6 separate regions of the Homo sapiens genome follow, and all the other regions are reported to be linked to region 1. The links are microRNA targets in miRTarBase. Many come from high-throughput screens and were not tested one by one. Region 1 holds a microRNA gene; each other region holds the end of a gene's coding sequence.

The links. The annotated mature microRNA hsa-miR-520g-3p reads ACAAAGUGCUUCCCUUUAGAGUGU and lies in region 1 at 1,519-1,542, shown strand. An mRNA with a match to its seed (bases 2 to 7 or 8) in the 3' UTR can be bound and repressed. Matches are read on the target gene's strand: a 7mer-m8 pairs with bases 2 to 8, a 7mer-A1 pairs with bases 2 to 7 and ends in A, and an 8mer does both.
Region 2: miRTarBase lists ZNF454 as a target of hsa-miR-520g-3p. Seed matches in the 3' UTR shown: 7mer-m8 at 3,741-3,747.
Region 3: the mRNA of NEDD9 is a reported target of hsa-miR-520g-3p. Seed matches in the 3' UTR shown: 7mer-m8 at 1,272-1,278.
Region 4: the mRNA of EIF3H is a reported target of hsa-miR-520g-3p. Seed matches in the 3' UTR shown: 7mer-m8 at 2,111-2,117.
Region 5: miRTarBase lists TRIM31 as a target of hsa-miR-520g-3p. Seed matches in the 3' UTR shown: 7mer-m8 at 1,836-1,842.
Region 6: the mRNA of C1orf210 is a reported target of hsa-miR-520g-3p. The part of its 3' UTR that is shown has no 7-base or 8-base seed match.

What each region holds. Positions count from the first base shown.
Region 1 is chr19:53,720,702-53,725,253 of GRCh38, forward strand. MIR520G (microRNA 520g) reads left to right here and starts at 1,465; the gene lies at 1,465-1,554. It overlaps MIR517B (microRNA 517b), which reads left to right and starts at 375; the gene lies at 375-441.
Region 2 is chr5:178,964,694-178,969,933 of GRCh38, reverse strand. ZNF454 (zinc finger protein 454) reads right to left here. Exons shown (of 5, transcript NM_001178089.3): 5 at 3,501-5,240. The coding sequence ends at 3,961. Among named protein-coding and RNA genes, the nearest start is that of ZNF454, 26 kb to the right of the region's middle.
Region 3 is chr6:11,182,492-11,185,491 of GRCh38, reverse strand. It overlaps NEDD9 (neural precursor cell expressed, developmentally down-regulated 9), which reads left to right. Exons shown (of 7, transcript NM_006403.4): 7 at 1-2,194. The coding sequence ends at 330. Among named protein-coding and RNA genes, the nearest start is that of NEDD9, 49 kb to the left of the region's middle. RefSeq lists an enhancer at 1-468.
Region 4 is chr8:116,641,248-116,646,487 of GRCh38, reverse strand. It overlaps EIF3H (eukaryotic translation initiation factor 3 subunit H), which reads left to right. Exons shown (of 8, transcript NM_003756.3): 7 at 1-17; 8 at 1,385-4,358. The coding sequence ends at 1,482. Among named protein-coding and RNA genes, the nearest start is that of EIF3H, 110 kb to the left of the region's middle.
Region 5 is chr6:30,099,865-30,105,104 of GRCh38, reverse strand. It overlaps TRIM31 (tripartite motif containing 31), which reads left to right. Exons shown (of 9, transcript NM_007028.5): 8 at 938-1,003; 9 at 1,316-2,208. The coding sequence ends at 1,569. Among named protein-coding and RNA genes, the nearest start is that of TRIM31-AS1, 2.8 kb to the left of the region's middle. RefSeq lists enhancers at 2,190-2,689, 4,177-4,686.
Region 6 is chr1:43,278,842-43,284,081 of GRCh38, forward strand. C1orf210 (chromosome 1 open reading frame 210) reads right to left here. Exons shown (of 3, transcript NM_182517.3): 2 at 4,411-4,527; 3 at 3,036-4,266. The coding sequence starts at 4,429. The coding sequence ends at 3,944. Among named protein-coding and RNA genes, the nearest start is that of C1orf210, 4.1 kb to the right of the region's middle.

The DNA.
Region 1 (4,552 bases):
CCGTCTGAAAAAAAAAAAAAAAAAAAAAAGCTGGGCGCTGTGGCTCACGCCTGTAATCCCACCACTTTGAAAGGCCGAGGCGGGTGGATCACGAGGTCAGGAGATCGAGACCATCCTGGCTAACACGGTGAAACCCCATCTCTATTTAAAAATACAAAAAATTAGCGAGGCGTGGTGGTGGGTGCCTGTAGTCCCAGCTACCCGGGAGGCTAAGGCTTGAGAATGGCTTGAACCCAGGAGGCGGAGCTTGCAGTGAGCCGAGATCGTGCCATTGCACTCTAGCCTCGGCAACAGAGCAAGACTCCGTCAAAAAGAAACAAAAACAAAAACAAAAAAAAGAACCCTACAGTACTGGAGCAAGAAGACCTCATGCTGTGACCCTCTAGATGGAAGCACTGTCTGTTGTCTAAGAAAAGATCGTGCATCCCTTTAGAGTGTTACTGTTTGAGAAAAGCAACGTTGAAGATGCTGCTGATCTTGGTAATACATTTGCAGAGCGTGCTTATCATCAGACTTGCATGATGTTGGGGTTCTCTTTGGTTTGTTTTTTTCCAAGACAGGTTCCCTGTTGCCCAGGCGGGAGTGGGTGGCACCTCCAACCGAGATCTCTTGGGCTCAAGTGGTGATCTTTTTATTTTTGATTTTTTGAGATGCGCTCTCATTCCGTTTCCCAGGCTGGAGTGCAGCGGCAGGATCCCTGTTGACCGGAAACTCCGCCTCCCAGCTTCCGGCGATTCTCCCACCTCAGCCTGCCGAATAGTTGGGAATAGAGATGCCCGCCATCGTGTCCTGCTAGTTATTATTTTTATTGTTGTTGTTGTTGTTGAGATGGAGTTTCACTCTTGATGTCCAGGCTGGAGTGCAGTGTTGCAATTTAGGCTCACTGCAACCTCCACCTCCTGGGTTCAAGCGATTCTCCTGCCGCAGCCTCCTGGGTAGCTGGGATTACAGGTGCCTACTGCCCCACCCAGCTAATTTTTGTGTTTTGAATAGAGACTGGGTTTCACCATGTTGGGCAGGCTGGTCTCAAACTCCCGACCTCAGGTGATCCACCAGCCTTGGCCTCCTAAAGTGCTGGGATTACAGGCGTGAGCCACCGCCCCTAATCTCACGTGGTCCTCTAGAGTCAGCCTAGACTCTGGTCTATCCTGGAGGATGTTTGTGTGTGAGACAATGTATATTCTTCAACATCAGCCCAATTCTCTTAGCTAAATGTAAGGTATGAGTAGTAGGTATTCCTTTTTCTCTTTGGGGACAAAACTCAGGACGATCGCCCCTTGATGAACAAGGCTAACCTGCTGAGCCTTTGAAGCAAGGAATTGGAGATGGTCCTTTCAGGGGTTTATGTTCTGGATTCCATAAAACATGTAAACAGGGCCAATAAATGCATTTTTATTTTTGTATCCGTTTTAACCTGGTCAAGGAAAATTCCAACAAGAAACCCAGAGTGCTGGAGCAAGAAGATCCCATGCTGTGACCCTCTAGAGGAAGCACTTTCTGTTTGTTGTCTGAGAAAAAACAAAGTGCTTCCCTTTAGAGTGTTACCGTTTGGGAAAAGCAGTGTTGAAGTTGATGCTGATGTTGGTAATATATTTGCATGCTTATTATCAGACTTGGATGATGTTGGGGTTCTGTTTTGTTTTTGTTTTCTAAGACAGGGTCTCTGTGGCCCAGGCTGGAGTACAGAGGCACTTCCAACCTAGGTCTCTTGGGCTCATATGGTCCTTTTTGGGACAGTCTTCCTCTGTGACCCAGGCTGGAGTGCAGTGGCACGATCTTGGCTCACTGCAATCTCCACCTCGCGGGTTCAAGCTATTCTCCTGCCTCAGCTTCCTGAATAGCTGGGATTGCAGGGGCCCGACATCACACTTGGCTAATATTTGTATTTTTCTTTTTTATTCATTTATTTATTTTTGAGATGGAGTCTCGTTTCCCCAGCTGGAGAGCGGTGGCATGATCCCGACTGACTCCAACCTCTGCCTCTCAGGTTCAAGCAATTCTCCTGCCTCAGCCTCTGAAGTAGCTGAAACTACAGGTGGCCGCCACCACGCCTGGCTACGTTTTGAATTTTTTTTTTTTTTTTTTTCAGTAGAGATGGGGCTTACCATGTTGGCCAGGCTGGTCTCAAACCCCTGACCTCAAGTGAGCCACTCACCTTGGCCTCCGAAAATGCTGAGAATACAGGCATGAGCCACCACCGCGCGCCTCCCAAAGGCGTGAGCCATGGTGCGTGGCCATCAACACCTCTTACTTTATGGAAATTTTTCTGGCACTGGTATAGAACCTCACATGGGGTCAGGTGGAGTTGAGGGGACCTCAGTGTCCCTGCAGATGGGATGAGCAAGAGCACGGAGGTGGAGTGCATGGGGCTTCAGTGTGTATTGGGGAAATGAAGCTGAAATCTTGGGTGCATGACCAGGAGATAAATGCATGAGACGGGGGTCTCACTATGCTGCCCTGGCTAAAGTGGTCTTAGATCCTCCTGCCTCTGCCCCTCCCAGGCCTTGTTAGATGGGACTACATGTAAATATTAACCCATGCACAGGCAGGAAGAAAGTAAGGACCATTTTTTGGTTCGTCCCGGCCCTCAGTTAAACTTGTGTTTTAGATAAACAATGTATTTGAGATGTGCTTAAACAATAAATGATACGCTATTTAGGTGTGGGCATCTTTGTTTCCCCCTAATTTTAATGATGGGACTAGTCCAGGTATGGTGGCTCCTGCCTATAATTCCAGCACTTTGGGAGGCCGAGACAGGAGGATCACCTGAGGTCAGTTGTTCGAGACCGGCCTGGCCAACATGGTGAAACCCCGTCCATACTAAAAATACAAAAATCAGCCAGGCCTGGTTGCACACACCTGTAATCCCAGCTACTCGGGAGGCTGAGGCAGGAGACTCGCTTGAAGCCAGGAGGCTGAGCTTTCAGTGAGCTGAGATTGCGCCACTGCATTCCAGCCTGGGCAACTGAGTGAGTCTCAGTGTCAACAAAGTAAATAATAGTCTAGGCACAGCGGCACACGCCTGTAATCCCAGCACTTTAGGAGGCTAAGACGGGAGGATCACCTGAGGTCAGGAGTTCAAGACCAACGGGGCCAACGTGGCAAAGCCTTGTCTCTACTAAAACTACAAAAATTAGCTGGGTGCGGTGGTGCACATCTGTGATTCCAGCTACTCGGGAGGCCAAGACAGGAGAACCACTTGAACCCAGGAGGAGGCGATTTCAGTGAGCTGTAATGAAGCCATGGCATTCCAGCCTGGGCCACAGAGCAAGATTCCGTCTCAAAAATAAATAAAACAAATAAAAATACGTAGATAAATACGGGACCGTCGTGAATTTGAGTGTCACCTTTGTGGAGCAGCCACGGTAATCTCTGTCATTCCAATTTTTTTTATGTGCACTACCAAAGCAAGAACTTGTGTAGGAATTATTCTTCCTGTGAGTATGCGATGTATGGAACTTTCCTTGAGACAGGGTCTCAAAAATATATCATGTATATTTTATATATTCTTATCATATATAATATAATCATGTACACACAAAATACTCTTCTAAATACAGAGAATACTCTGATATCACCTTGCGTATTTTTTGTTTGCATGTGTCTGTGTTTGGTTGTTTTTTTTTTGTCATATTTTTGTATCCCTACTTATATATTTATTTTTAATTTTATTATTATACTTTAAGTTCTAGGGTACATGTGCACAACGTGCAGGTTAGTTACATATGTATACATGTGCCATGCTGGTGTGCTGCACCCATTAACTCATCATTTAGCATTAGGTATATCTCCTAATGCTATCCCTCCCCGCTACCCCCACCCAACAACAGTCCCCGGTGTGTGATGTTCCCCTTCCTGTGTCCATGTGTTCTCATTGTTCAGTTCCCACCTATGAGTGAGAACATGCGGTGTTTGGTTTTTTGTCCTTGCGATAGTTTGCTGAGAATGATGGTTTCCAGTTTCATCCATGTCCCTACAAAGGGGTTGGTTATTTTTGAGACAAGGTCTGACTCTATCGCCCAGGCTGGAGTGTAGTGGTGCCATCTCGGCTCACTGCAACCTCCACCTCCCACCTAATCCTGCTGAATTAGTGTCTGCAGGCATGCACAACCACATCTGGCTCACTTTTGTATTTTTTATACACATGGGTTTACACCATGTTGCAGGCGCTGGTCTCAAACTCCCTCCCAAGCTCAGGTGATCCTCTGTCTCAGCCTCCTAAAGTGCTGGGATTAGAGGTGTGAGCCACCACACCCCACTGGTATTTGTGTGTTCCTGTTCAAATTTTATTGAGGAGTTTTTATAACCAAGCCTGTGGTCCATCCTGGAGGATGTTTGTGTGCATGACAATGTATATTCTTCAACATCGTAGACTCGATGTTGGATGCTCCCATCGGGACTGTGTGTCCCTGTACTGGAACTCGAGTGAACACTTGGCTCTAAGTTCATTGCTGTTTTCTAGAAATCCAGCCCAATTCTCTTGGTTAAATATAAGGTGCACGTAGTAGGCATTGCTTTTTCTTTCTGGAGACAAAACTCAGGAGGATTGCCC
Region 2 (5,240 bases), not on the chromosome of region 1:
GGGCACCCGGCAGGAGACGGGCAGAGGAATCTGAAAGGGGAAATCCAAAGCAACTGTTTTTTTTCGGTAACAAGGAGGCAGTTTCAGTGGCTGTTCCCAGAAGCCCATAGAAATGAAGAACCTATCAGTCTAGATGCCAATTCCCTTCTCAAACTGGGCAGAGTGGAGCTGGCACTGTGATGGGTCTCGGAACGCTCCGAGGTGGGAGGAGAGGCCAGGAGCTGCTTCTCAGGCTCTTACCTTTTTCTATGGCCCAGGTGAGGGGCGGGGAGACTGGCCTCATGTGAAGGTCATGGTCGTGGTGTACCAGAGCAGTCTTGTGTACTACATGAAGCAGGCGCAGGCTGGACGTGTGAAGACAGAGCTGCTGAAGGTGGCACATCACCAGGTGGCCAAGTCTGTCCCTGAAGAGTCCCAAATCGTGGTCCTTCATCTTGTCACAGCTGGGTATGTCGACATGGCCATTAGGACTACAAGAGCAAGGTATGGAATGAACTGCTCTTTCTAGGAAACACTGGTTCTTTGGGGATTAACCCAGCTGAAGGTGGGGCACAGAAAACTCCCTCTCAGTAAGTACTGAAATGTCTAACACCACACAGATCAGCTGGTAGAGAAGACTGTGGCTGAAAAAGTCTTACTGCAGGGTCCTCAGAAATGTACTTTTAGGGGTTGAGCTGGGGCAGGTGAGAATGCCCAGGTAGAGAGCAGTATCATCCACGTGAGAAAAGTATGCCTGGGACTCAGGCAGTGTCCCCTCCCCTAGTCGAGAAGGCCGTGCAGTGAGCTCGTCATCCTACAGTGTAATACAGTAAAGCCACTGCCTGGCCAAGTACTAGTACCATCAATATATTCAAGTCAGCCTGGGCGTATCTAATAGGCCAGTGACGTACTTTTTGCCTTTCCAGACAGGGATGAGTGAACAGGCATCTCGGAGGACTGATTTCATGAAAACCCAAGCCTGATGAGAGGCGAACTCAGGGAGAGTGCACTGTCTTCTCAGATGGGGGCCTTCAGCCTGCACTTAATGCCGCTGACGCTAGTTCCTGGAGCCGCGGCTGAGGTGAATGAGACTCAAGTGGCTGCACGCCTTGGTCCTGGCTCAACGGTAGGCACATACCAAGTAGTGGTAGTTCTCATGCGTTCATTACAGATAGACAAAACCACCAACCAACTCAGCTTAGAAACGTGCTTCTCAGGGATTCAAGGTAAGGGGGTGGTAGTTAAGACCTGGCACATTACATGGATGGGGTGAAGACAGACATCTGTAGCAGTGAACGTGGTTTTTTCAGGTTTACTCTGGAATCTGAGGGTGTCAGCTGCGTGAAGCTGCAGATGAACTTCTGAGGACATGGGACACAAGCAATCCCAAGAAACCTCTTGAAATACTGCTTCACATGCAGCTTAATAGGGAAGAAAGTCTGAGTTGCTGATCAGCTAACAGGAGATGCTGGCCCACAAAGGTGGCCTTTATTAGATGAAGGCTGAATTTAGATTACTTGGACTTTGAAGCTGCTGGAAGCTTCCAAGTCTATGTTGCAACCCAGAGCCCACTGAGTTCTACCATGATATAGAATATCCTCTTCTGTAACATGGGGGTGAGGTGCTCCATTCTGAGGGGTCAGGGGGTTGCTCAACTTGACGGACAGCACTTCCACATACCAGGAACTTGCCACTTCACTTTCCAGAAAAATTTGCTTGGCCTCCCATCTTCACTGCATGATATATTCCAGCTTGCAGTAGTGAAGGCTCCTCCATTCCTTGTGGTAGGAAAAGGGAGAGGGCCCTCAGAGGCTGTGTGTGTGTGTGTGTGTGTGTGTGTGTGTGTGTGATGCACAGATGTTACTTATCTGTGTGATTTCTACTGAAAGCACTGAAGGATTAAAGACGGGGAAGGTGGCCGGGTGCGGTGGCTCATGCCTGTAATCCCAGCACCTGGGGAGGCCGAGGTGGGCGGATCACAAGGTCAGGAGTTTGAGACCAGCCTGGCCAACATAGTGAAACCCCAACTCTACTAAAAATACAAAAAATTAGCTGGGCATGGTAGTGGGTGCCTGTAGACCTAGCTACTCGGGAGGCTGAGGCAGGAGAATCACTTGAACCCAGGAGGTGGAAGTTACAGTGAGCCGAGATCACACCACTGCACTCCAGCCTGGGCGACAGTGCAAGACTCTGTCTCAAAAAAAAAAAAAAAGAAAAAGAAAAAGAAAAAAAAAAAACAGGGTAAAGGAACCATACTTGCAGGACGACTGTACCACTCAAACTTTTGAACACGGACATGGCCCTTGCCAGAGAATATCAATGGTGCTAGTGACCACTTCTTGACTCATGGAATTACTCAACATTTTTCTCACCACTGTCAGCATGAGTCTTTAAATAGTGGAAGGCCCAGATGGAGGAGAGGAAATGACCACTTCCAAATGCAAAAGCAGAAATTCAAAGCTGTCTGCTTTCCTATGAATATAGAATTACTACCTCCAGAAACCTAGAAAAAGCAGGGGAAGGACCAGGATGCAGCAGTTTATCCTGGGAGTAGTAAATGTACTCTAATGCAGTGGACACAGTGGACTGTACAGCCAGGGGAAGAGAGTGGGTCAGAGCATTCTGAGAACTGGCCTTGGGGCTTTCACCTCTTATATCAATTGCACATAGAGAAATGGGCAGCGACAGATGGAGGTGACTGGGAATAGTACAACGTAAGTGGGTGGGATCATTGCACCTGAAGCTGAGCAAGTCCCTGACTGATGTGTAGAGTCACTAAGTACAGAACAATTGGAGGGTAAAGGCGGCACAGGCAAAGCCCCTCCTTCAGGTGCCATCCCAGGATCAGTCAAGCTGAAGCCCAGAGGAAATGCATAACTCAAGAATTTTGATCAAGTTGTGCCTTCTGGACAGAGATACCAAGTTCTGAAGGCTGGATTTGGGTGTGATATTCAACATCATGGACTGTGTCTGAGACCAGACCACCACACTCCCCATAGGGGCAGTGATAGGTGGCACCATGCAGACAGTTAGGCGTTGCTAAGTCAGAAGAGGGTCATTTGGGGCAAATGAATCGTCTCACAGGGATTCTACAGGGATGAAGCCAGCAGACAGACCAGAGAGATCTGACAATGGATGGTTTGAAGCAAAAGGCAGGAAGCATGGTTTAAATAAGTGTGGGTGACGTACTTTCTCTACACTGGGTGTCGGTGGTGTGGGTGAGGAGAGGACTAAGGCTTCCATTAAAGCTGGCAACTCTCTTATGTAAGAGAATCTAGTAGAGTGCAACGCTCGTAGGCCATTTTACCTTTTTGTTCCTTTGCTTTTCAGCTTTAATTTTTACAATTTCAGTTTCTCTAATAGTCAAAATGTAATTTGATAAACCAATTTTTTAATGCTGTTAATGAAGCTCCATTTTGGTTCTGATGCTTGGTAATTCAGACAAATCAAACAGTACTGCTATTTGAGGCAGTATTAAAGAATGAGGAGTGTTTGCCATTCTTTTTTTTTTTTTTTTTTTTGAGACTGAGTCTTGCTCTGTCGCCCAGGCTGGAGTGCAGTGGCACGATCTCGGCTCACTGCAACCTCTGCCTCCCGGGTTCATGCCATTCTCCTGCCTCAGCCTCCCGAGTAGCTGGGACTACAGGCGCCCACCACCATGCCCGGGTAATTTTTTATATTTTTAGTAGCGATGGGGTTTCACCCTGTTAGCCAGGATGGTCTCGATCTCCTGACCTCGTGATCCGCCCACCTCGGCCTCCCAAAGTGCTCCCAAAGATTACAGACGTGAGCCACTGTGCCCAGCCGAGTGTTTGCCATTCTTAAATGCCCAAACCCCATGACACTGTGAAACCTGACCCTCAGTAAATAAAGTGACTATCTTGATGCAAGCTTTCATAGTTATTCTCTAGAACGGATTATCTCACATTCAATAATTCATCTACTCAGTCTCAAAGGTCTTCCATACAAACTGCATTCATATCACTTCTCTCCAATATGATGTCTCTGATGCTGAATGAGGTTTGCAGTCTGGTTAAAAGCTTTCCCACATTTATTACATTTATAGGGTTTCTCTCCTGTGTGAATCCTCTGATGTTGAGTCAGGTGAGTGCTTCGGATAAAGGCTTTCTCACAGATTTTACATTTGTAAGGTTTTTCCCTAGTATGAATTCTCTTATGTTGGGTAAGGGCTGAATGGTCACTGAAGGCTTTTTCACATATGTTACATGTATAAGGTTTTTCCCCAGTATGAATTCTCTGATGTTGGGCTAGTGCTGATTGGTCCCGAAAGGCTTTCTCACACAAGCCACATCTGTAAGGTTTCTCTCCAGTGTGAATTTTCCGATGTCGTGCAAAGGATGAATTATCCCTGAAAGCTTTCCCACATTCATTACATTTATAAGGTTTCTCTCCAGTATGAATTCTCTGATGTTCAGTAAGGGAAGAGTTCACCCTGAAGGCCTTCCCACATTCATTACATTCAAAGGGTTTCTCTCCAGTGTGAATTCTCTGATGCTGAAGGAAACTTGTACTCTGATTAAAGGCTTTTCCACATTCATTGCATTTATAGGGTTTCTCTCCACTGTGGATATTCTGGTGTTTGGTAAGGTGTGCCCTGCACACAAAGGCTTTTTCACAAATGTTACATTTAAAAGGTTTCTCTCCAGTATGTATTCTATGATGATGGGCAAGGTGTATATTTCGGATAAAAGCTTTTCCACATAAGTTGCATTCAAAAGGCTTCTCTCCAGTATGAATTTTCTGATGGTACGTAAGTGAGGAGCTCACTGAGAAGGCCTTGCCACATTCCTTACATTCATAGGGTTTCTCGCCAGTGTGAATTCTTTGGTGATGGATAAGGTGCGTACTCTGGTGAAAGGCTTTCCCACATTCTCTACATTCATATCTTTTCTCCTTAATATGAATTTTCTGATTTGCATTTTTTTCATTATGAATTTTCTGATGTTTATTAAGAGTTGAACTCTTAGAGAAGACTTTTCCACACTCACTACACTCAAAGGCATTTTTGCTAGGTTGAAATCCCTGACTTTGATCACTGTGAAGAGATGAGCTCATAGTGCTCCCGGATTCATCACATTCCTGTGATGGGGTGTTGGGGTGAGTGAGTACCACTCGCTGCAAACTGATCTCCTGGCCTCCACATTGCCACTCCAGCAGGCTAGCACACTTCCAGTGACTACTGCTACTGAATCTTTCCTTTATTGTCCATTGATCCAATTCTTCTTCAGGAATCTCTGCCT
Region 3 (3,000 bases), not on the chromosome of region 1:
ATTGACGCACTCTTCAGTTGTGTCAGCTCAGCCCAGCCCCCGCGAATCTTCGTGGCACACAGCAAGTTTGTCATCCTCAGTGCACACAAACTGGTGTTCATTGGAGACACGCTGACACGGCAGGTGACTGCCCAGGACATTCGCAACAAAGTCATGAACTCCAGCAACCAGCTCTGCGAGCAGCTCAAGACCATAGTCATGGCAACCAAGATGGCCGCCCTCCATTACCCCAGCACCACGGCCCTGCAGGAAATGGTGCACCAAGTGACAGACCTTTCTAGAAATGCCCAGCTGTTCAAGCGCTCTTTGCTGGAGATGGCAACGTTCTGAGAAGAAAAAAAAGAGGAAGGGGACTGCGTTAACGGTTACTAAGGAAAACTGGAAATACTGTCTGGTTTTTGTAAATGTTATCTATTTTTGTAGATATTTTATATAAAAATGAAATATTTTAACATTTTATGGGTCAGTCAACTTTCAGAAATTCAGGGAGCTGGAGAGGGAAATCTTTTTTTTTCCCCCTGAGTGGTTCTTATGTATACATAGAAGTATCTGAGACATAAACTGTACAGAAAACTTGTCCACGTGCTTTTGTATGCCCATGTATTCATGTTTGTTTGTAGATGTTTGTCTGATGCATTTCATTAAAAAAAAAACCATGAATTACGAAGCACCTTAGTAAGCACCTTCTAATGCTGCATTTTTTTTGTTGTTGTTAAAAACATACCAGCTGGTTATAATATTGTTCTCCACGTCCTTGTGATGATTCTGAGCCTGGCACTCCCAAATCTGGGAAGCATAGTTTATTTGCAAGTGTTCACCTTCCAAATCATGAGGCATAGCATGACTTATTCTTGTTTGGAAAACTCTTTTCAAAACTGACCATCTTAAACACATGATGGCCAAGTGCCCAAAAGCCCTCTTGCGGAGCAAATTTCAGAATATATATGTGGATCCAAGCTCTGATAGTTCAGGTGCTGGAGGGAAGAGAGACCTGTGTGTTTAGAGGCCAGGACCACAGTTAGGATTGGGTTGTTTCAATACTGAGAGACAGCTACAATAAAAGGAGAGCAATTGCCTCCCTGGGGCTGTTCAATCTTCTGCATTTGTGAGTGGTTCAGTCATGAGGTTTTCCAAAAGATGTTTTTAGAGTTGTAAAAACCATATTTGCAGCAAAGATTTACAAAGGCGTATCAGACTATGATTGTTCACCAAAATAGGGGAATGGTTTGATCCGCCAGTTGCAAGTAGAGGCCTTTCTGACTCTTAATATTCACTTTGGTGCTACTACCCCCATTACCTGAGGGAAACTGGCCAGGTCCTTGATCATGGAACTATAGAGCTACCAGGACATATCCTGCTCTCTAAGGGAATTTATTGCTATCTTGCACCTTCTTTAAAACTCACATATGCAGACCTGACACTCAAGAGTGGCTAGCTACACAGAGTCCATCTAATTTTTGCAACTTCCTGTGGCCAGTGTGTATAACCCCTTCCACTATCTCACAGATAGTCACAGCGTCCATTCCATAGTCTGTCTCCTCACATCTGTTAGTATTGACACAGCACAGACACCACAAGCCATCAGGTTCTTCATGGGGCAGGTGAAATACTTCTACCCCATGGGTAAATGTATTCACATATTACCAAGAGAAGAAGCACATTATCTATGATCTTTTGGCCCAGTTCTTATTTAGCATTTTTATTCCAGCCTACTTGGAAACATGTTTTTATTTGCAATATATGCCTGACTGAATTAAGCTTGCTTGTTTTAAACAACCAAATCATTGGAACAGAAAAGGATTTAAAAAACAAGAATGCATGATCTCAGAGTGATTAAAAAAAAATCAGTGGAAATAAATGATCATAGAAGGTGCTTTTCAAAACAACTGCTATTATAATTCTCAAAGTCCTACTCTGCCAAAAGAAGATTAAAAGTCATACATTACATTACAAGGAAATGTTCATGTGGGAAGAGGGTTGCTGAAAATCAACAACGCTTGAAGTTAAAAAGTGTGTCTTTGTAGATTTCATTGTATAATGTGTATTTCTTAGGAGATGGCTGACTTGATTGATCTACGCTAAGTGGAGACATTTCACATTTTTAAAACCAAATGTTCAATCTGTATTACTCTTTGCCGTCTTGTATGTAGAGGCTATTTTTAAATCATTAAATTTTTAGATCTCTGTTTTCATAGCCACTGGGTTTTCTTTTTCATACTCCTCTGTCACAGAATTAAATATTGGCTTACTTTGGTACTCCTAATATAAAAAGTTAAATTATGATTATTTTAGCAATGCTATAGGTCTGGATTTTTTTAGGAAAATTGAGGGTTTGGTTTTCTCTGTATATGTGTCACTTCCAAGTGTATTTGCATTCAAAGAAAATTCTAGAATCTGTGAACATTATCAAATTCAAATATCTGGAACAAGACTTGTGTTCACCAAAAAACCCATACACTCAGTAACATATAGGATGATTTGTTTTCATAATATGGATGTTACCAGTCATGTGGTTTTTAGAATCAAAGAAAATTTTTCTATTTGTTTTGGAATAGTCATAAAGAAATAATTTAAAGCAAACTATATTTAATGAAAATAAGAGATTTGTAATCATGTAATTATCATTTTTAATGGTTGGCCCACTCTTTTATTCAGGTATCCCACTGAGATTTACAGACAAATTATTTAAATGTATCATGTACCATTTTGCCCACACATATAAGCATTAATTTATTTTTGACAAAATGTCAAGGCACTTCAAGGAGGGAATGAAAACTCTTCCGAAAAAAAAAGTGGTGCGGGAACAACTAGATCTATGAAATAAAATGAATGTGTACCTTACGTTCTACCCAAAGATTAACCCAAATGGATCATAGACCTAAATGTAAAACTTAAAACTCCTAGAAGAAAACACAGGAGAAAATCTTTGTTATCTTAGGTAGACAAAATTTCCATATTTGAAACACTTTAAAAACTTAACTCAGAAAAAAAATGATTTAT
Region 4 (5,240 bases), not on the chromosome of region 1:
CTCGCTGCTCATTGCAGGTATTGTTGCCCAGTGCAAAACCTGGCTGGTTTTGTTCGTTTCTTAGGAAGCAGAAGACAGTGAGAAATTTACAAACAGAAAAGCATGCCGTAAAAGCTAGTATGTTTGAAATAGTTGCAGGATGAATTTGAATCTAGCACCTGTAATATCTGAAATCTAAGAACTTGTAAGAGTTTGTTCTTTTGTCCAGGTCCTTTCAGTGCTTCACTCTGTGTTTCTAAACATTTTTGAGATGGCATAAACTTTCTAAAATGAGTCCTTTTTCATGGAAACCCAGAAAAATTGTTTACAGTCTTAATGCAGAAGACCACTTAGCTCAGGCCTCTTACTCTTCCTTTTCCAGCACAGCACTGTACAGTGGGTACTTGACTTGAATTTAGGAAATTATTTCCCTTACTTGGACTTAAATTGTGGCAGCACAAATGTATTTCCGGATAAACTTTTTCTGGTTATACTTAATGTTTAATACCACCTTTAAGCAGGAGAGGTCCTGTGTCCTGTACTAGGACTTGATTTTGAATATATGACATTCATGCCCTTATTTGGCTATAATCTTATAGAAATGTTAAATGCCATCTGATTCAGTCAGATCCTTACCTGTGAGAAGATTTTATCAAAGTGAAAATCCTACTCAAAAGCTGATTGGCAATTTCTCAAATTATATTGATACATTTGTAATGTGGGAGGAAATTCCAAATTCCTTAACATTTTCTAGTGTACATACAAATTAAATTTGGAAATGAGACACAATTCCTTCCCAAAGGTCCAATTCAAACAGAATTGAGATCCTTATATTTTGAAGAAGTATGTAACTGATGTAACTGTTGCATGGGATTAGATCATTAAAGACATAAAAAGCAATGATGGAGCCCTTTCTTCAAGTGAACTCTTTACTCTTACTCTGTCTGGCTCGTAGGAGAAAACTCCTTAACGTTCCCAAAGCACAAACTGAAAACCTACCGTACTTGTTCACATCTGGGTCCAGTGGGTCTGGCTGGTTTGCAGCTCTGTGATTTATTGTTAGTATCTCCTTTCTACCTGTGAAGGCTAGTCAGCGCTGTTTTCTCAGTTGTACAGCATTGGTTTGATCTATTTAGTCAGTCCTTTTGACTGACAGCTATTATGTCCTTAGGGCTGATAAGCTTTTGAGGAGTAGTTTTTCTTTATTCTCCATGTAATTGAGAGTGGACAGTAGCTTATTTTCAAAAGAACTTGTATTTCTTATCCCTTATGGAAAAATAAACTCTGGATTCAAAACAATAAACAGGTGATTCTGTTTTATGCTGATTTTTCTGTTTGACTAGCTTTCTGGATCATTTTACAATTTGTGGAACATTATGGCTCTATCTCTTTCTCAAATGCACAGGCCAGATAAACACTTACTGCCAGAACATCAAGGAGTTCACTGCCCAAAACTTAGGCAAGCTCTTCATGGCCCAGGCTCTTCAAGAATACAACAACTAAGAAAAGGAAGTTTCCAGAAAAGAAGTTAACATGAACTCTTGAAGTCACACCAGGGCAACTCTTGGAAGAAATATATTTGCATATTGAAAAGCACAGAGGATTTCTTTAGTGTCATTGCCGATTTTGGCTATAACAGTGTCTTTCTAGCCATAATAAAATAAAACAAAATCTTGACTGCTTGCTCATTTGATTTTAGATGTATTTTCTCTGGCTTACTTTTGTTTGCTTATACTTGTTTATTTCTAAAAGCTAAAACAAGCCCTGACCGGAAGTTTCACCAGGCAGAAACCTATAGGCTCCACCACTTTTGCTGCCTCTCAGGTGCCACCTTTCAACCCACTTCTCCCAACTACTTATCCCAGCTCCTGACCCCGAGGCCCTGGCATCTACTGTGAATATTTTTTTTTTGAATTTTTATACTTCGCTGCTCCCAAATGAGCACCCCGAGAGAAGTCCAGGCTTCATGTACTTGCCCAGGAATTCCTTGTCCCCGGACCCGGAATCACTTGGCCTAATTCCGGTCAGTCTGCCTTTTCATTTCTGCAGGTGATGGTCAACCAGTCCCCGTACTCATAGGCCATGGGACACAAGATTATTATTATCATCATTATTTTTAAAGACAGAGTCTCACTTTGTTGCCCAGGCTGGAGTGTAGTGGCACAATCTCAGCTCGCTGCAACCTCCACCTTCTGAGTTCAAGCGATTCTCCCACCTCAGCCTCCCAAGTAGCTGGGACTACAGGCGTGTGCCATCACGCCTGGCTAATTTTTGTATTTTTAGTAGAGATGGGGTTTCACCATGTTGGCCAGGCTGGTCTGCATCTCCTGACCTCAAGTGATTCACCTGCTTCTGTCTCCCAAAGTGCTGGGAATACAGGCATGAGCCACCACTCCTGGACAGGCCACAGAAATTTTAAAGAAAAGAATCATGCCACCACAAGTAAACTTCATTTTGTTTATATTATTTAGGACTTCACATTTGTCTTCCGAAACCATGAAGTATAATTCTGCTAACAGCAAGTGTTGTGAATGAGGAATTAGGAATTAGGAGAATGGTAGTACATTGGGAAAAACATATTTTAGTAATTTTTATATTTTAAAGATAATCACAGATTTTGCTGTTTGTGCATCACCAAAATCAGTGAGATCTGCCAGCTGGTGGGGGTGTGCCTATGAGAATTTTTGATTATGATCCCCTAGGAGGGTTATCAAAAAAGGAGATGGGTGAAAGATCAGGAGAGTCGAGAAATTCATTTTTTGGACAACATTGTTTTGAAGGCACTACTGGGGCTCTGGGATCAGGCAGCCAGATTGAAACCTGGCTCCTCCTTTTCCTAAGTTATTTAACCTCCCTGTGCCTCACTTTTTGTCAACCAGATAAGATAAGAAATGAGAGCAGGTCTGTTACCTCACAAGGTGGCTGTGAGTGTTGAAGACGTTTGTTGGGGGTTTGGGTGAAGCATGCAAACTCTGGTTGGTATGTGGCAGCCACTCAGCCTGTATTTATGATGAGGGAGGCATTCTAGGCACCCCTTCCAGGATGTTGGGTTGTTGGCTGGGTTTTACTTTAAAAAGCTCAGGGCCTAGAACATTCTAGAATCCAAGTACTTGCTCACATATATAATTATTTCTTTAGGATAATCTTTGATATAGACTTACGAGTCAAAGGGTATGTAAAATGTCAGCCCTTTTACCTGTATTGCCAAATTGCCTTCAAAAGTTTCTGCTGTTTTGCCCTCCTACCCATAGTGATAACCTTAAATTGGAGTCAACACAAATTTGAGTGTGACTGTGTTAGACAGAAGGGATATATTAACAGGTAAAACTGGCCATGGCCCCTGCCCTTGTGGAGTATATGCTCTGTTGGTTCATTTCCTCTGCATTCTAATTTTCTAGACTTGGGATCTTATTGTGGAGTTAAACAAAGCACCCTTAAAGTAGCAAGCGAGCAAAATAAAAGCAAGGAAAATCAGTTGGAACATAACTTATGTATTTTTTAGGATTAAGAGTAATTTAACTGAGTCAATTCAATATGTTTTTAAAGGTGTGATTCTTAAATTCTTTATGATTGTTTAGATTTCTATATCTTGGTAACATGAATACACACTTAATGAAAGATTTCAGTAATTTTTGATTTGGGAATTAATCATAGTGGGAAAAACTGTTTAGGAAAACATGTCAGTGGAAATTAACTCGCCACAGTATGTAGTGTTAGGGAATAGCTTCTGTTCGGCATTTGATTTGAGTGCTGTATTCTGACATTTTTCAGGAACAAATACATGTGATTCATCTTCTATAAATATTTGCAGTTTCTTCAAGTTGAAATGAGAAAAGCTCGTAAATTGAGCACCAGGTCTAATAAATCATTCACTTACCCAAGAACAGAAAGACAGGAAAAGCTAGCATGTTAATCTAATGAAAAAATCGAATGTTAAAAAACCAAGAAAGTAGAAGATATTTGACATTAACTTTCTAATCATTGATAATAATCTAATAATCATAACATTATTCTTAAAACCTGAAAGAATGGATTCCTGCTCCCAATGTGTTTTTAATATCAACTTAAACTAAAATAATTTTTTTACCTATTTTTGGAAGCTTGGAAATTGAGATGTAGTTGTCTAATGTTAACCTAATTAAGAGAGCTTGGTGTGATTTCTCATATACAGCATCTAAATATTTAAGTTTTAATGTCTTCTAAAATATTATTACATTCTTCATACTATAGTTTTTTAACATCCTTTAGAAAACTTGTATCAGCTTCACTTTCAAACCATGCTGGCATCGAACTCAGGTGTAGTGGTATCAGAATGTTATGAAATAATTTTTTATTTTCATTATAAACTCCATTTTTACAATAAACACTTCTCAACCAAATTAAGTATGTAATACACTGTCATTTTAAAAAAAAATCTCACTGGGCATCTTTTTCTATGCTAGCTCTGTATTTTTAAAAATTCTCTCTTTTTTTTTTCTAATTTAAGAAGTATTTATCAGATACCTACTATGTCAAGCACTCTTGATGTTCCAAAGCAGACAGGACACAGATTCTGCCTCTGAGCTTATTAATCAGCATATGACCCAAGAAGGGAACATGAAGTCCTACAAGCTGATAGAGTATGAAGTCATAAGTGCCTTGGAGAGTGCTTTGGGCCATGTTAACAGAGGATCCTTCTGCAATTGGGTTGTACAGAAGGGGTGACAGTGGTTAATAGTCATTGTGGTAAAAGGATAAAGATCTGAGTCTATTATTGAAAAGTGGTGACTCCCAAGTTGGAGTCAGAACCTCTTTGGATGGATTGGAAGAGGGGTTCATTTGACTCCAAATTACTGGAGACAGGGAGTGAGAAATAGGAAGCCAGAACTATTGGGAAATTACAGTTTGCTGGAGCAAACTGCTGTGGCCTAGTACTTACTGCCTTGAGACTTCATTTTATATAAATAGACACTTCCCTATAATGCACCTTGAGCCTGTTTGGCTCCACAGCTACTGGCAGAACCTGAAATGGCTTTGCATAAGCCTCAATGGTGATTTTAGGGATATAGTCCGGGTATGCAAGGAATGGTTTCCAAGTGCTATACCCCTGCTCCAATGTGGGGAGTTTGGGCCATTCTGTAGGAGTTCGGTGTTTCCCAGACATTTCTTTGTCTGAGTACTTGCATTCTTATTCTTACAGGCTGTTAAGCCCTCGCGTAGTTGCCATGTGATGAGTTTATTAAAGTCAAAATTTGATTTCTACACCATAGAATACCACTCTG
Region 5 (5,240 bases), not on the chromosome of region 1:
TGTGTCTCTATGATTACATGAAGGCCAGATATAAGTGAATGCCGATTCCTCAGCCAATTGAGAGAACAGGCATATGGTTGTTTTATTATTTTAAACTCAGGTAACTCACAAAACAGTCACTAATCCCAAACTTTGAAGTATTCAGAAGTAATAGAAAATTACAAATGTATTTCTTCACTCCTAGAGACAGGGAGGAAAAAGTGGGACAAGAAGGAGGCAGCTCCACCTCTGTAGTATTTGCTGCCCCTACAGGGCAGCAGGTTTCGAGGCAAACTCCTCTGGGTGTGAGGTCAGTACAGCTCAGGGGATGGAGACCCACTGTAATAACAGCCTGTGCTAAAGTCATTAGATATGGTTCTGCCACCTAAGACAATAACAGTAGAAGTACCATTTCTTAAAGGACCACTATGTGCGCATCTAATATTTCAAAACCCCACAACTATCCTCCAAGATAGGTGTTATTATCTGCAACTTACAGTGAGGTCCATGTAGCTTCCGGGAGGGGAGGTAAGTTACCCAGGTCATATGATCATTAAGTGAAAGAGAGAGAATTAGAACTCCTTTCTCCAAAGCCAGAAACTACAGAATGCATTCCAAAGCCAGAGAGCAGGATTTAGGGATCCTATTCCACCAGCATTTCTCCACAAAAGGAGCTACCGGTGTTTAGAAAGGCCATCTTTGTTATGCTCCATGACTTTTGCCCTGTTAAATGCTTAGTATCCCAGGCCCCAGAAAGCCCTATAAGCCAGTAGAGAACCACACTCTTGTTGTCACTGAGACAACCTGAAAGGTTTCCACACTTCCCCCTGGGTGGGGAATGGGTCCCACTGAGAACCATTGACTGTTCTGATTGATGATGGCAGGGTGCTTGTTTTTGTTTTTAATTTGCAGCTTCTGGTTATCAAGACCAAATAGGTTTTCTCTCCCCAATTTTTAGGGGGCTTGTTACAGAAAAATAATCATAAAATGAACAAAACCTCAGAGCCCGGGTCATCTTCTGCAGGTAAGAGTCCTGTCTCTGAATACTAAGGGACCTCTAAGTCTACAGGTGGTCAAAATGCTGTATCCACCCAATTCCACTAAATGGAATAAATGAATAAATGAATGAATTCATTTATTCCATTTCCTCAGTTCCTCCCCAAATTACACCTCTGCCAGGAAACAGAGGGCGCTCCGACTTGTTCAGGTGTACTTTCTTGAGTTTCACCTCCATCCCTCCTGCTGTATGTAGAGCTCAGCTGTGCTGTCTGGCAATGGAGGATTGCTGCCGAGGTGCTCCCGCTGACCTCTTTTCTCCTTTCCTTCTCCCGCAAAGGCGGCAGAACTACATCGGGGCCACCAAATCACCACTCTTCAGCCCCATCCCACTCCCTGTTTCGGGCCTCGTCTGCTGGGAAAGTCACTTTTCCAGTATGTCTCCTGGCCTCTTATGATGAGATTTCTGGTCAAGGAGCGAGCTCTCAGGATACGAAGACATTTGACGTTGCGCTGTCCGAGGAGCTCCATGCGGCACTGAGTGAGTGGCTGACAGCGATCCGGGCTTGGTTTTGTGAGGTTCCTTCAAGCTAAGCCAGCTCAGAGAACACGGGGAGCGGTGGTGCTACACGGACTTCGGAGCATAGAGTGGCGCTGAGTGAGTGGCTGAGACCGACCACGGTTCTTGACTTAGTGGAATTGGGTCGAAGGAGTGGAGAATGGGAGGGCTCGGGCTACTGAGAGTGGAGATGGGGGCGGGGGTGGTGGTGAAGAGAGTTGGAGAAGGAATGGACGAATTCTTGAGCAAAAGGAGGGGAAGAGACAATCTCCAGCCACCCGCCCCACGCTTGACTTCTTATCACTTTGGCTGTGGTGCCGCCTAGTGGAAAAAGGAAGTCCCTGCAGCAGTCCCCGCACTCTTTAAGCAGCTGTTTACCGAAGGCACCAGTTCAGCCAGGAGTGAAATCCGGAGAGGAGCAACGCCAGCCTGGGTCACAGTCCATCAAACCCCATGAGCCCGACCACTCTCGCTCTTCCTTACATTCCCACGTCCCCCTTCTCTCCCAACCCCTCATATCAGCAAGGGAAATTAATTAATGAGATTTGATAAATCAGTAGATAGAATGAGGTCCCCATTCTGAAATATTTAGCAGACTGGAACCACCACGCAAGCCTCTGTAGGGGGTGGATGGAGACACTTCTAACTTTAATAAACTGCGACTGAACGTGGAATCCTAGTAAAAGTGTATGTGTGTGTGGCGGGGGATGACTATTCCTCCTTTTGTATTCCAACACTTTCACTCATCCCTGTGTTTGAGGAACTCCACTTTAGAAAATTACTGGCCCTCAGAAAGTCTGAGCCTTGACCCTCTTATACTAGACTCAATTCTTGTCTTAGACATGGGAATTAGGGGCCACGGGAAATGGACAAGGAAGAGATGGTCTCATCTTCGGGTGTTGAAATGATCTCACCACCACCACCAATGAAGAACTTCTCTCTGCGCCCACAGAACAACACATTGTGAAATTTAGGGATTAACTTTGAGGAGGAGGAGGCGGTGCCGGGCCTAAGACTTCTCTGGGGACCACAAAGGCTGTGACTGGGAAGAGAAAGCCTCTCTGGCGGCATCGAGCGGGGCGGGTGGTGGGACGGGGGTATCAGAGGAAGGTAGGGGGTTTGGACAACTTGACCCGGGGTTGGCCACCTCTTTCTCCTCATCTTCACACAGCCCCTGTGACACTGGACGCAGCCTCGGCCCACCCGGATCTCATCCTTTCCCAGGATGAGATAGTGACGCTGAACCTCGCATCCCAGGGCGGTTCGCAGAAGCGGGGCAACCCCCGACGCTTCTACAGGTTCCGCTGAGTGCTGGGCTCGCTGGGCCTTTGCTCCGGCCGCGGCGCCTGGGAGGCGGAGCTCCAACGGCCCGGGGGCGGGGCCTGCGTGCCGGGGCTTGGCCTTGGAGCTGGTTCCCAGGCGGGGCTTCCTGGAGGTGGAGCCCTTGACCGGCTTCGTGGAGCTGCACAGCAGCGGCTCCCAGTGCCAGGCGCTCATCGAGAGCGGTTCCCGGGAGGATCTCCCGATCTGTCCGAACAAAGTGGGCGTCCGCTTGGATTACTAGGGCGGAGAGGTAGTCTTCTACGACGCCACCTCGAGGACCCACATCTACACTTTCCATGCCTCCTTTCCGGGGCAGATCTCCTTTTTCCAGCTTCTGTTTTCCGGCACCCGGATCACCCTGGGTCGCTAGAGTTGTTCTTTGCCTTCCTCTGCATCTCCTCCTCACTCGCTTCTCGCCCCAGTTTGGGATGTGCTGCAGCTGGAAGGGTTGAAGCTAGGCTTCCAGCAGCCCTATGGGAAGGTTACACCCTTCGGGCTTCCTCCTGATCCAGTCCTGATTTCTCTGACCCTGCTTTAAATATTCCTTCTATCTCAGTTCCTCTCTCCTTACAATATGCCTGGGTCGAAAAGAAAGGCTCAAATACACTAAAAGGCTATACACAAGGCTGTTCATTGCAGCACAGTTGGTAACAGGATAAGACTGGAAACGAACGTCTATCAACAGGTGGTTGAAAAAGCTGCCACGTGCAAGCATCCAGCTGCATCTCGGTTAAGACAGACACAGGGGAGTGGACCACTGACCCCAGCTTGTCCGCCTGTCTCCTCCTCCATTTTACCTCCTGCAGCCCCCGTGGACCTGCACAGGGCTTTGACCCATCTGAACCCCATCCTGAAAACCGACATACGCAAAACTTTTCTAGTTCTTCGTAATACTCAGAAACCAAAATTAATCCCACGACCAGATGCATCCTCCTCTCAAACCCACATCACCACTACCCGCAACAAAAGTCTTGATCATTCCTAGTGTTGCCATGTGAGGGACTGAAGTTAAACCCAGAGAAGGACTGCTCCAGTTTCCTGAGTGAGCCCAAAAAAAGTAAAAGGGCGAGGAGGTTGGAAACGCAGAGACGAAATGACCTCTGGACAGTAAAACCCACCATTTGCGCCAGTTTGGGATGATTATGGGTTCCTTCCTCTTCCTCCCTTCAGGCCGGCTGGGGACTGGGTAGGCGGATGGGACCAGGCGTCTCTAGGCTTTTCCTGCCTCCTCGCTCCGGTAGGGAGAGGGCGGTGTTGCAGGAGGCGTGGGGAGTCGCCCGCCAGCCCACGCTGCTGCCCGGCGCGTGGCTGCGCAGCGGGAGGGCGGGCCCAGGTGTCGGGGCGGGAGTGAGCCAACGCCCGGAGCACGGATTCCAGGGGCGCTCAGTCAGCCCTGGCCAGGCTCCCCCATCCACTTCCCCCAGTCGCCCGCGAGGCGCCGCCGATTACATAAACAGCCTTCACCTTCCTGCGGAGGGGACAACAAAGGGCTGGGGACACACAGGCCGAGACCCGAAAGTAACGCCCCTCCGGACTTTTATTCAGAATCAGCCGGGACTGCCCAAATCCCTATTTACAGTTCTCACAGCCCTCGTCATGGTCATGGACTTCGCGCCTTTTACCTTGTTTCCTTTCATTGTGTACAGATTCAACTTCCTTACTACAAAGGGAGATCTTTCCCAAATGTCTTAAGTTGATTTTATACTTCCTGACTCTACCAACCCCAGACACTTAGCACGGACCCTAGAATGGGGTACTTGATTAATAAATATTTACTAAATTAAAACCATGCCCTAATTTCTCTTTTCCCGCGAAAGACTGATGTCTTGGAAATCCCACTCAATTTTCGTGGACCAGCTCCACCTCACCTCCTCCGGGAAGCCTTCCCCAGGCAGGGTTCCTGGTACTTTCTGTTGGAAAAGTGTGCACACTCCCAAAGCCACTACAGCCATCTCCCTGCAGCACTTACCGCAAGTTGACTGTGAAGTCCTCGAGAACAGAAGCAGCATCTCACTCCTTTTCGTTTCACTCTCCCACCCTCCTTGAGCACTACAGGGCCTGGTTCCTAAAGGGATGTAAATGAAGGAAGGGTTCAAAGTAAATGAAAGAATACTTTGTAGCAAGGTTTAAATTTGGGGAGGTCTTCCAACCTGGACCTTAACCTTAAACGATGATCACACTCTTCTCAGCCGTGAGGGATGGGGGTCGCCTCTTTAGGAGCCTCTCAGAAGCTCATTTACTCAAAGAGAGTCCTGGCCATTCATTCGATGTTATGGCCGGGAAGTCAAGTGAATACTGAACCCTGGCCAAGATTTCCATCCCCCAGTCCAAAGTGTTTTCTGCTTCTTCACACAGTTATGATACTACTAACAGCATGTTTACA
Region 6 (5,240 bases), not on the chromosome of region 1:
GCAAGCTCCGCCTCCTGGGTTCACGCCATTCTCCTGCCTCAGCCTCCCGAGTAGCTGGGACTACAGGCGCCCGCCACCACGCCCGGCTAATTTTTTGTATTTTCAGTAGAGACAGGGTTTCACCGTGTTAGCCAGGATGGTCTCGATCTCCTGACCTCGTGATCCACCTGCCTCGGCCTCTCAAAGTGCTGCGATTACAGGCGTGAGCCACTTCACCCGGCTTACTGCTGGAGTTTCTTAAACGTCATGTTGGTGGCTTTGTGTGACTCCATCTTTGGCCTCCACACAGTGCAAGGGATGTAGCCTTGCCTTTGAGGCAGCAGGATGAGACAGTGGGTAGCTGGGTTGGGATTCCCAAGGCAGAGTAGGTAGTGGCAGCTGCCAAGGAGTGGAGGACAAGGTGCAGGGCCAGGGGCAGAGGCAGGCGGGGCCAGGACCCGAAGCCAGAAGACGCCAAACCAGAGAGGGCCTGGCTGAATCCCAAGCTCCCAACACCCCCAGCCCTTTGCGGCTGTGGGCTCAGGTCATGCTCCCTCTTTGCACTTGGGGTCAGGCATGCAAACCACAGTGGGAAGAAATTCCTCCAAGGAATCAAGGCCTTGAAGGACAGGGTCCAAGGTTCTTGTGACTACAGGGCCCTCCTCAGCCAGGCTTGCCACCCACAGCTGGTTCTGAGGGGAAGCCCCAGCTCGGGCACCCTGTGGGGCACAGGCTCAGCAAAATCAACTGCGAGTCTGGGATCAGGCCCTTACCTTCTTCTCCTGGGTCCATCAGAGGTTCTGACTGAGGCCCCAAAGAGTACAGGAGAACAGGGACAGCCAAGCATAGAACTGCACGCAGGGCAGCTCCTCTGTGGTGGGAATTGAAGGAGCCCAGGGGCAGGGGGCAGGCTCAGCTGCCTGGGCAGCAGCTTTTCCTGGTAGGCCAGGACATGCCCCTTAGGTCAGCCTCTGGGGTCCTCCTCCAGGGTCTCAGGCTGGGGCAGCCTCTGCTCTCCCCAGGCCTGTGAGGGGCAGACCATCTCTGGACTCAGGAACCATGGCCAGGTTGGGGGTCATGTGAGCTGGGCTTCCCTCCTCTCTGCTTCCTCCAACTCCCCTGCCAGGGCTTGGTCCGCTGACAGTCTTGAGATGTGTTTCCCGCTCCGCTCCTCTCTGGCGATCTCATCCATTCCTGCTCTCAATGACCCTGGTGCCAAGTGTTCCCAAGCCCGTGTCTGCAGACTAGACTTCTCCCTGTGAACCCAGCAGCCCCGAGGCATCTCCCCTGGAAATCCTGTATCCAACATTGAATCCCCATTGCCCCAACCTGCTCTTCGTCAATGTACCCAGTAACCAAGCCAGAAGCCAGGGTGCGTTTTTCTGATACCTACCTACTCCCCATATCCAAAGTCAACAGGTCCTATCAGCTCTTCCTCCCTCTTGTCTCAAAGTCTGTTCCTATGTCACACCTTAGACAGGTCTTATTACCTTCTCTCGGTGTCTCCCCTCCAATCCATCTCTGCACAGCAGCCAGAATGACTTTTCTATCATGATTATGTCATGCCCTTGCACAAAAAAAGTCCACAGATGAGCTTCCATTGCTCTCAGGTTGAAGTGTGAGCTTGGCATCCAAGGCCCTAACAGATCCACTCTTGGGCTTCCTCACTGCCATGGGCACCCCTCAGATACGACACTCAAGTCCTCTTCAATCTCCTGCCTCTTTCCCAAGCACCTCACTACATTTGCCAATGCCTCACTTTCCTTCTGTACCAGCTCATTCCTCAAAGGCTGACACTGTACTTGGGGAACACATGGGGGTGGCTGCCTGGCTCATGAGAACTGCCCCTTGTCTGAGAATGATCTGGAACAAACAGATGGGCTCCCCAAACCATGCCCCCCACTCATAGCAGATTGTGCTTTAAGCCTATGTATACTTGACCCAAACTGGGCCAAATTGATTCTCTTTTCTGAGCACTTGAAACTTGGAACTGAGAGTTTGGAAGTCCTGGTTATAGAGAGTCCCATCAGTGCCCCTAAACGACAGGATGCTAGGGGTGAAATGCCTGACCTCTGGCTGCTGGGACCGCCTGCTTCCTGCTGTCCCTTTGATTCTATGCAACAGCCAGGACTCTCCCCCAAACTCCTTTCTATTGCTTGCAATTAAAAACAGCTTAACTCAAGTCTTTTCCATCTTAAAACTAGCTCCCTTGTGCAAGAATCTGAGGATACACAATAAGACACAATCTGGGGCCTCAGGGAGCTCCCAGTTTAGCTATGGGGGCAGGCATAGTAAGAGGCAAGTACGAACCGTCATAAAGATTAAAATAAGCCTGTAAATCCCAGCACTTTGGGAGGCAGAGGTGGGAGGATCACTAAAGTCTAGGAGTTCGAGACAAGCCTGGGTGATACAGTGAGACCCCATCTCTACAAAAAATAATTAGCCATGCGCAGTGGCACATGCATGTATTCCCAGCTACTTGGGAGGCTGAGATGGGAGGATCACTTAAGCACAGGAGATCGAGGCTAAAGTGAGCTGTGATAGCCCCACCATACTGCAGCTTGGGTGACAGAGAGAGACCCTGTGTCAAAAAAAAAAAAAAAAAAAAAAAAAAAAGATGGCCAGGTGTGGTGGCTCACACCTGTAATCCTAGCACTTTGGGAGGCTGAGGAGGGTGGATCACCTGAGGTCAGCAGTTTGAGACCAGCCTGGCCAGTATGGCAAAACCCCATCTCTACTAAAAATACAAAAATTAGCTGGGTGTGGTGGTGGTGGGTGCCTGTAATCCCAGCTGCTCAGGAGGCTGAGGTAGGAGAATTGTTTGAACCCGGGAGGCGGAGTTTGCAGTGAGCTGAGATTGCGCCATTGCACTCCAGCCTGGGCAACAAGAGCAAGACTCCGCCTGAAAACAAACAAAAAGATGAAAACAAAATGTGGGCAGGACAGTACTAGAGAAGGGCTCATGGAAGGTGTCTTGGAGGGGGGAGCATCTGAGCAGTGTCTTCTAGCTCTGAGTGATAAAGCCCAGCTCAAGAAAAATAAAAATGAGTGACAGCTTTTTATTTTTATTCAAAATGAAAATAGATTTATTAATTCCTGTGAAAAACATATTATAACCGGATTACCCACTTTATTTATAGGAAAATATTTCATTAAGAAGCTGGCCGGGCATGGTGGCTCACGCCTGTAATCCCAGCACTTTGGGAGGCCGAGGAAGGCGGACTACCTGAGGTCAAGAGTTCGAGACCATCCTGGCCAATATGGCGAAACCTCGTCTCTACTAAAAATATAAAAATTAGCTGGGCGTGGTGGCGGATGCCTGTAATCCCAGCTACTCAGGAGGCTGAAGCAGGAGAATCGCTTGAACCCAGGAGGCGGAGGTTGCAGTGAGCCAAGATGTGCCATTGCACTCCAGCCTGGGCAACAGAGTGAGACTCCGTCTCAGGAAAAAAAAAAAAAGGAAGCTTGGCACTGGTTTTCACCTGCACAAATGTTACCATCTGGGCATATTTGAAATGCTGGCAGGTAGGCAGGCCATCACAGTCATAGAGGATTTAGGAGAAGAGTAGCGTAGGCAGGGGGACCAATGTGAGCAAAGGTGCCTGGGGAAACTGCATGGGAAGTGGTGGGAGGGAGAATAACATTGATTTCGACAGTAAAGTAGGGGAAGGCAAGAAAAGAAACCAAGAGGCCGAGAGGCATGATCACAGAGGGCCTTATGTCCACACTCAAGCCTTTGTTTGGCTTTATCCTGAGAACAGCAGGGAACAGTTGAGAGTTATTGAGCAAGAGAGGGTCATTGTCACTTTGCTGGCTAGTGTCAGGGAAGTGGGGTTTACTCCATCCCTGGCCAACCTTTAAGCCCCAGCCACCTCTGTCCCTGAGGTTCAAGGCCCCCATGTCATAACCACTGTCCTTAAGCTGTCAGGCATGGAGGGAGTGGGGAGGGTCTAAAGATGGGAGCTCAGAGGGAGAAGTGGTCCCTGCTACCCTCTGTCCCCAGCTCGCCAGTCCCAGGCTGAATGTAATTGTCCTCGATGAAGCCATCATCATCCTCATCTTCAGCCACCTGTGGGCGGCCTCCCCTTCCTGTCTCAGGCAGTGGGCGGTGCCGGTAGCTGGCATGGTATCGGCGGCAGAGGTGGCATTTGGCAGCAAGTGCAATGAGGAGCGAGAGGACCACAGCCCCCAGCACAAATCCTACCAGCACAGGCCATGCCCGAGCCCCAGTGCCTGGGCCAGGGGCCACAGCAGACGCTGTGGGGAGCTCCGAAGGCCCAACAAGTGCTGCAGAGAAAGGGACAGCATTATAGGTGGGCCCCAGAGGGGGCTCCCTGGAGAAACCAAGAGCAGTGCAGGTAGGGTCCTTCCCCCAACCCCAGCATCTAAGGGGAAGCCCCCCACCCCCATCATCCTCCCACTGTCACTCACTTTTGTTTGTCTCATTCATGGAGGGGCCTGATGACACCAGTGAGTCTCAGCCTCAACCAGAAAGAGCCCTGGCTCTGAGGAGGCCCCCAGATGCCAGGCAGCCCCAGGGCACAAGTCCTAGAAAATAACATAGGTATGGGTGTCAGGGATGGTCACAGGGTGCACTTTCCAGGTCACACTCACAGCCATGGTAGCCCTGCACAAACTCTGGGGACTGGACAACTGACCACACCAGCTCTCCACAGAAGAGAAACAAGCTGAGCCTACAGAAACTGGCTATTTGTAAGGGACCATCACAGGGTTTGGCTCTGGAAGCTGCTAAAAAAAAAATAAATTGTAGAACTTACTGAGCATTCCTTATAATTCAAGCACCAGGCATCATGCTCACAAAACCCAGTAAGGTAAGTATAAACATTATCCCCACTTTATAGATGAGGGCTCTGAGGCTGAAAAAGGTGAACTGACTCAACTAAAGTCTTCAGATTCGAACCCAGAGCCCAGTCTGTTGCACTGCTTGGTAAGCTGAGGATGGGAGACAGGGGCAGAGGTGGGTCCTGGCTCCCGAAGGTCAGAAAACAGCAATTGCTTGGAGCTACCCAGCCAAAGCGGAGACCACATATGGGGAGGGTGATGCAAGTTGCTACTGAGGACAGGGGCCCTGGACACAGCCAGAGCAGCCCTGGCCCTTCTAAGTTGAAAGCCGCTGCTGCCCACCTCTACCCTCAGCCCTTCAAGCAAACCCCTGTCCTTTCACCTCTACTCAAAGGAGGCCCACACTCTGCCCCCACAGGGAGGCTCAAGCCAGGGAGTATCCAAATGAGGATCACCTG